2 linked regions of the Homo sapiens genome follow. The protein of the gene in region 1 purifies or fractionates together with the protein of each later gene. This does not show direct contact. Each region holds a gene or a part of one and is shown on either strand. Other genes may lie near its edges.

What was found.
Region 2: the proteins of GPR180 (region 1) and CCR6 purify together in Homo sapiens (co-immunoprecipitation; one large-scale study listed by IntAct). This does not show direct contact.

What each region holds. Positions count from the first base shown.
Region 1 is NC_000013.11:94,618,857-94,622,356, reverse strand, and holds part of GPR180 (integral membrane protein GPR180 precursor), read right to left. Parts: intron 3,208-3,500; coding exon 3,027-3,207; intron 2,890-3,026; coding exon 2,840-2,889; intron 1,280-2,839; coding exon 1,122-1,279; intron 1-1,121.
Region 2 is NC_000006.12:167,136,369-167,139,641, forward strand, and holds the end of CCR6 (C-C chemokine receptor type 6), read left to right. Parts: coding exon 1-987; 3' UTR 988-2,773; downstream 2,774-3,273. UniProt on the Homo sapiens protein: Receptor for the C-C type chemokine CCL20. Binds to CCL20 and subsequently transduces a signal by increasing the intracellular calcium ion levels.

The sequences.
Region 1 (3,500 bases):
GACAATAAATTAAAATTACAATGAAATAATAAAAATGAAATTTTTAAAAAGAAATAAAAAGTGAGAATTTAACCTGACATTGACACTACTCTCCATAAGTCCTGGCTCAAAAACATTAAGTTGGTAGAATCTCAACCTTATTTTAATCAATTCTTCTAATTCAATTATTTCTCATCATCCCCTTTCCTGGCACTACCTCCTTTCTAAATATCACCACCTGTGATATGGTCTCTCTCAAATCATTCATGTAAATTCAATACTCCTATTCCACTCAAAACCTACTATATTAAATACTAGGGATAGAAAGATGAATAAAGCACTGACCCCATCCTTCATTAATACATTTTTCAATTTATTTAATGCATTAAACTTACATTATAATGTCCTCTACAGAGCCTAAGTATATAATTCATTTTCATCTATAGCTAATGCTCATCAAAAACTCAGTACAAATTTTTTTCTTTATAACCTTTCTTCTTAATTTTTACAAATCCATTGAACATAGGCATATGGGTATCTTAGAATGTCAATACTATTAATATAGAGGAAAATAAAAAAAAAGGCATGCAGGACCTTTATAAAAGACTAGTTTTGTTTTTACATTTGCTTTCAAAAACAAGATCCCATTCTTTTTTAGTCTATATTTTGCCCTTTAATTAATCTTAGATAATCACCTGAATTCTTTTACGTACAAAGCAGCCAATCCTAAAGATTCTTGACAATGGATAAATCTCAAATTCATGGAATCACTCATTCAGTGTTAAGTACTTACCATGTGCTAGAGAAATATGAAAGAAAGCTATTATTAAGTAGGAAATAAGACTCTAACCTAGTATTAAACATACTGTGCTTAAATAAGCTGATAGGAGCTCAAATTCAGGTAAATTATAATTAAATTCTGCAGTCTACATATAGTAGCATCCAGATAATTAAGATTATTTGATCTAACACTCTTTAAATTCATACTTTAAATGACACAAATTGTAGAAGCTCAGAAATTTCAAGAAAAAAAAAATGACACAAATTCCTTATGGGTCCCAGGTTTCAATTCTGAAATGAGGTATGCTCAAGTTTGCATTTCTGAGGATTACTAAGCAGAAACACTGAGTATCAATACCCACCTGTGTCATGACAATGAATACTGCAATGCCAGTGGATGCAGGCGTAGAATCCCACTGGAGAGGTCTGCTTTGAGACTTCTTCATTCTGACTATTGTCCAACCCATGCATAGACTCAAAAGTAAGTATAACATCTGAATTTGGGAAGCGATGTCAAAAACTAATGGGACATGAAAACCAACGTCAACCAAGTTTTCACAATATAAAAAATTTAGTGCTTTTTGCATTGAGAACATCTTTTTTTTTTTTTAAGAAAAACCACAAAAAGCCATTTTCAAAGAGAAGCTAACGAAATTCATTAAGAGATATTCGCAGGTAATAATTCTAAAGATTTAAAAATTGCCATAAATTTTGTAATATATTTATTAAAATAGTTAAAACAGCAGCAATACTATTTAAAAATACATATATATGCCCATACCATATGTCCATTAAGTCCAACCTTAACTCTTTTCGTTTCCCATTTTTCTTAGCTTTTCTAACTACATAATCCTGTTCTCTATAACTCACTGCTTATTAAAGCAAATTCTAAATACGATTTCTGCAATATGGAGAATACTAGTACCTTCATTTCTGGGTGAATTTTTTTTGATGGCTGAACTATAATGTGAAGAGTATTTTCTAAAACTATTAACAAGAAACAATACAATGAAATGCATAGCTCCCATAACATCCAAACATTGGCTTTACTTTCAGAATCCTGAAGACAAATGAGAAGCTCCATGCATTAGTGTGATGTGCCACCAGGTGGCCATCACCTACACTGCAGGGGAAGCCTGCTACTTCAAACAGAAAAGATGTATCAAAACCACCTGTATCCAGGTTAACACTACAAGAAAACAACAGAAATCTATAAATGCTTCAAGTTTCATATATATATTTATTTTATGAGGTAGCATTTAATGATTTTTAAGAAAACTTATCACTTTTCTTCACAGCATATTTTGATGTGAGTTTTAGGCTTTGGGTCAGAAATAGAAAAGAGTCAGTTATAACAGAGAGTGGAATTATAATAGGAAGAAAAACTTCAGCTTTGAGGTAAGAAAATTTAGGTCTGAGTCTAGTCTCTACCACTCAATAGCTGACTGACATGTGGAAGTATGTTTCACATCACTGAGCCCAGATCCTTTATCTGCAAAATAAGGATATGCAGACCCCTTTTCTATTGAGGATAAGATGAGAGAATGTATATAAATATACCTAAAAACAATGAAAAGGCAGAGTGTGGAGACTCATGCCTGTAATTCCAGGACTTTGGGAGGCCAGGGTGGGTGGATCCCTCAAGCCCAAGAGTATAAGGCCAGCCTGGGCAACATAGTGAGACCCCATCTACAGAAAAGGAAATTTAAAAATCAGCCAGGCATGATGGTATGTGCCTGTAATCCCAGCTACTGGGAAGGCCTGAGGCAGGAGGATCACCTGAGCCTAGGAGTTTGAGGCTGCAGTGAGCCGTGACTGTGCCACTGCACTCCAGCCTGGGCTACGGAGTAAGAACCCTGTCTCAAACAAACAAACAAAAAAACAACGAGGAGCTGTACACATTACCTATTATTAAGAAGAAACTAAGTAAGACATATGGGAACTTAAACTGTAATCCTGTTCTCAGTCAAGCTGATTTCTAAACAATTTTCGACAGAAAATTTATACTATGACAAGAAATAAAAAAAAAGCAGATAGCGAGTGTAAAAGCTTTTTAAAAAATGCTCAGAAAGATACTCACATTCTGCCAAACTTCCCATAAATGGTACCCCTATTCCATCTTTGGAGTAACTGAGGAATTGAAGAAGAGTAGTGTAAATTACAAATGTGAAAAAAATTGTTTATAATCAAAGCAAGCATAATTTTGGTGGACTAATTAGGATTAATTAGATGTAATGATGAACACAGTTTTAGTGGTTTTGAGTTACCTGGAGAAATGAATGTAATTAGCTAAAGCTGAACCAGCTTGTAACAGCAATGCAGTTGTCAGAACCTTTAAAATCATGTGCATGGGTCCGCCTTTCTTAATAGCCTGCCACAATGATTGAGCATAAATGCAAGCAATCACAAAGTACACTAGGACTAGGAGGAAAAAGAACTCATGTAACCCTGTGAAGAGAAGAAAGGGAGTTTGCTTCAGTAAAACAAAGCCAGTTATCGTATTGGGCTGCTTTCAAATCTCCCTGTCAATATATTTCTAGAACTTGTTTTTTAACTGGAGTCATAGCATTCACCTTTGTAAGAGAAAAAAAATTATTAAAACTTAAACAATTTTGTACCTTGGGGCAAAATTTTAACTACAAGAAAGCAGATTAAACCAAACTAGTTAAGGTCAATCTGTAAGAAAGCATAATGGTCAGGGGAACCCAAAGACTCATCATAAAATCACAGTTTTGTTTGAA
Region 2 (3,273 bases), on another chromosome or scaffold:
CTATTTGTACCGATTGCCTACTCCTTGATCTGTGTCTTTGGCCTCCTGGGGAATATTCTGGTGGTGATCACCTTTGCTTTTTATAAGAAGGCCAGGTCTATGACAGACGTCTATCTCTTGAACATGGCCATTGCAGACATCCTCTTTGTTCTTACTCTCCCATTCTGGGCAGTGAGTCATGCCACCGGTGCGTGGGTTTTCAGCAATGCCACGTGCAAGTTGCTAAAAGGCATCTATGCCATCAACTTTAACTGCGGGATGCTGCTCCTGACTTGCATTAGCATGGACCGGTACATCGCCATTGTACAGGCGACTAAGTCATTCCGGCTCCGATCCAGAACACTACCGCGCAGCAAAATCATCTGCCTTGTTGTGTGGGGGCTGTCAGTCATCATCTCCAGCTCAACTTTTGTCTTCAACCAAAAATACAACACCCAAGGCAGCGATGTCTGTGAACCCAAGTACCAGACTGTCTCGGAGCCCATCAGGTGGAAGCTGCTGATGTTGGGGCTTGAGCTACTCTTTGGTTTCTTTATCCCTTTGATGTTCATGATATTTTGTTACACGTTCATTGTCAAAACCTTGGTGCAAGCTCAGAATTCTAAAAGGCACAAAGCCATCCGTGTAATCATAGCTGTGGTGCTTGTGTTTCTGGCTTGTCAGATTCCTCATAACATGGTCCTGCTTGTGACGGCTGCAAATTTGGGTAAAATGAACCGATCCTGCCAGAGCGAAAAGCTAATTGGCTATACGAAAACTGTCACAGAAGTCCTGGCTTTCCTGCACTGCTGCCTGAACCCTGTGCTCTACGCTTTTATTGGGCAGAAGTTCAGAAACTACTTTCTGAAGATCTTGAAGGACCTGTGGTGTGTGAGAAGGAAGTACAAGTCCTCAGGCTTCTCCTGTGCCGGGAGGTACTCAGAAAACATTTCTCGGCAGACCAGTGAGACCGCAGATAACGACAATGCGTCGTCCTTCACTATGTGATAGAAAGCTGAGTCTCCCTAAGGCATGTGTGAAACATACTCATAGATGTTATGCAAAAAAAAGTCTATGGCCAGGTATGCATGGAAAATGTGGGAATTAAGCAAAATCAAGCAAGCCTCTCTCCTGCGGGACTTAACGTGCTCATGGGCTGTGTGATCTCTTCAGGGTGGGGTGGTCTCTGATAGGTAGCATTTTCCAGCACTTTGCAAGGAATGTTTTGTAGCTCTAGGGTATATATCCGCCTGGCATTTCACAAAACAGCCTTTGGGAAATGCTGAATTAAAGTGAATTGTTGACAAATGTAAACATTTTCAGAAATATTCATGAAGCGGTCACAGATCACAGTGTCTTTTGGTTACAGCACAAAATGATGGCAGTGGTTTGAAAAACTAAAACAGAAAAAAAAATGGAAGCCAACACATCACTCATTTTAGGCAAATGTTTAAACATTTTTATCTATCAGAATGTTTATTGTTGCTGGTTATAAGCAGCAGGATTGGCCGGCTAGTGTTTCCTCTCATTTCCCTTTGATACAGTCAACAAGCCTGACCCTGTAAAATGGAGGTGGAAAGACAAGCTCAAGTGTTCACAACCTGGAAGTGCTTCGGGAAGAAGGGGACAATGGCAGAACAGGTGTTGGTGACAATTGTCACCAATTGGATAAAGCAGCTCAGGTTGTAGTGGGCCATTAGGAAACTGTCGGTTTGCTTTGATTTCCCTGGGAGCTGTTCTCTGTCGTGAGTGTCTCTTGTCTAAACGTCCATTAAGCTGAGAGTGCTATGAAGACAGGATCTAGAATAATCTTGCTCACAGCTGTGCTCTGAGTGCCTAGCGGAGTTCCAGCAAACAAAATGGACTCAAGAGAGATTTGATTAATGAATCGTAATGAAGTTGGGGTTTATTGTACAGTTTAAAATGTTAGATGTTTTTAATTTTTTAAATAAATGGAATACTTTTTTTTTTTTTTTAAAGAAAGCAACTTTACTGAGACAATGTAGAAAGAAGTTTTGTTCCGTTTCTTTAATGTGGTTGAAGAGCAATGTGTGGCTGAAGACTTTTGTTATGAGGAGCTGCAGATTAGCTAGGGGACAGCTGGAATTATGCTGGCTTCTGATAATTATTTTAAAGGGGTCTGAAATTTGTGATGGAATCAGATTTTAACAGCTCTCTTCAATGACATAGAAAGTTCATGGAACTCATGTTTTTAAAGGGCTATGTAAATATATGAACATTAGAAAAATAGCAACTTGTGTTACAAAAATACAAACACATGTTAGGAAGGTACTGTCATGGGCTAGGCATGGTGGCTCACACCTGTAATCCCAGCATTTTGGGAAGCTAAGATGGGTGGATCACTTGAGGTCAGGAGTTTGAGACCAGCCTGGCCAACATGGCGAAACCCCTCTCTACTAAAAATACAAAAATTTGCCAGGCGTGGTGGCGGGTGCCTGTAATCCCAGCTACTTGGGAGGCTGAGGCAAGAGAATCGCTTGAACCCAGGAGGCAGAGGTTGCAGTGAGCCGAGATCGTGCCATTGCACTCCAGCCTGGGTGACAAAGCGAGACTCCATCTCAAAAAAAAAAAAAAAAAAAAAGGAAAGAACTGTCATGTAAACATACCAACATGTTTAAACCTGACAATGGTGTTATTTGAAACTTTATATTGTTCTTGTAAGCTTTAACTATATCTCTCTTTAAAATGCAAAATAATGTCTTAAGATTCAAAGTCTGTATTTTTAAAGCATGGCTTTGGCTTTGCAAAATAAAAAATGTGTTTTGTACATGAAGTAGGAATCGTATTTCAGCTTCAAGGTTCAGATTGAGGGGCCCACTGTTTGGAGAGGATGGTATTCAGGCTTTCTCATGTCCTTCAAATCTGTTAGCGTTTGACTCTAGAAATCAAAGCAAAGGAGTGGTTACCCAGACACTTCTTTTGGTGTGATCAATGCGCTGATGTGATCTATGAAGATGATTCATGCTTGAAAACTAGCACAGAAACATCTTGCTTATTTGCCAAAGCTGGGAGATGAGCTTCTCTGCATAATTTAAATGTTCAGATAAATGAAGCTGACTTATTTAAGCAATAACCTTTTAAACATTTTAGCTAAGATGTATAAAAATGTTTCCAAAATATACCACATACTTTATTTCTTCTTAAATGTAGTACATTAGGTTACATCATTTTTCTTGCTGTCTTGGGCATCAAAACAGGTGCCATGGTAACCTGACACTCTCAGGAGACATTAAGATAGAAGGGGCTGTTCTTCAGTGGTTCCCATTGATTCTC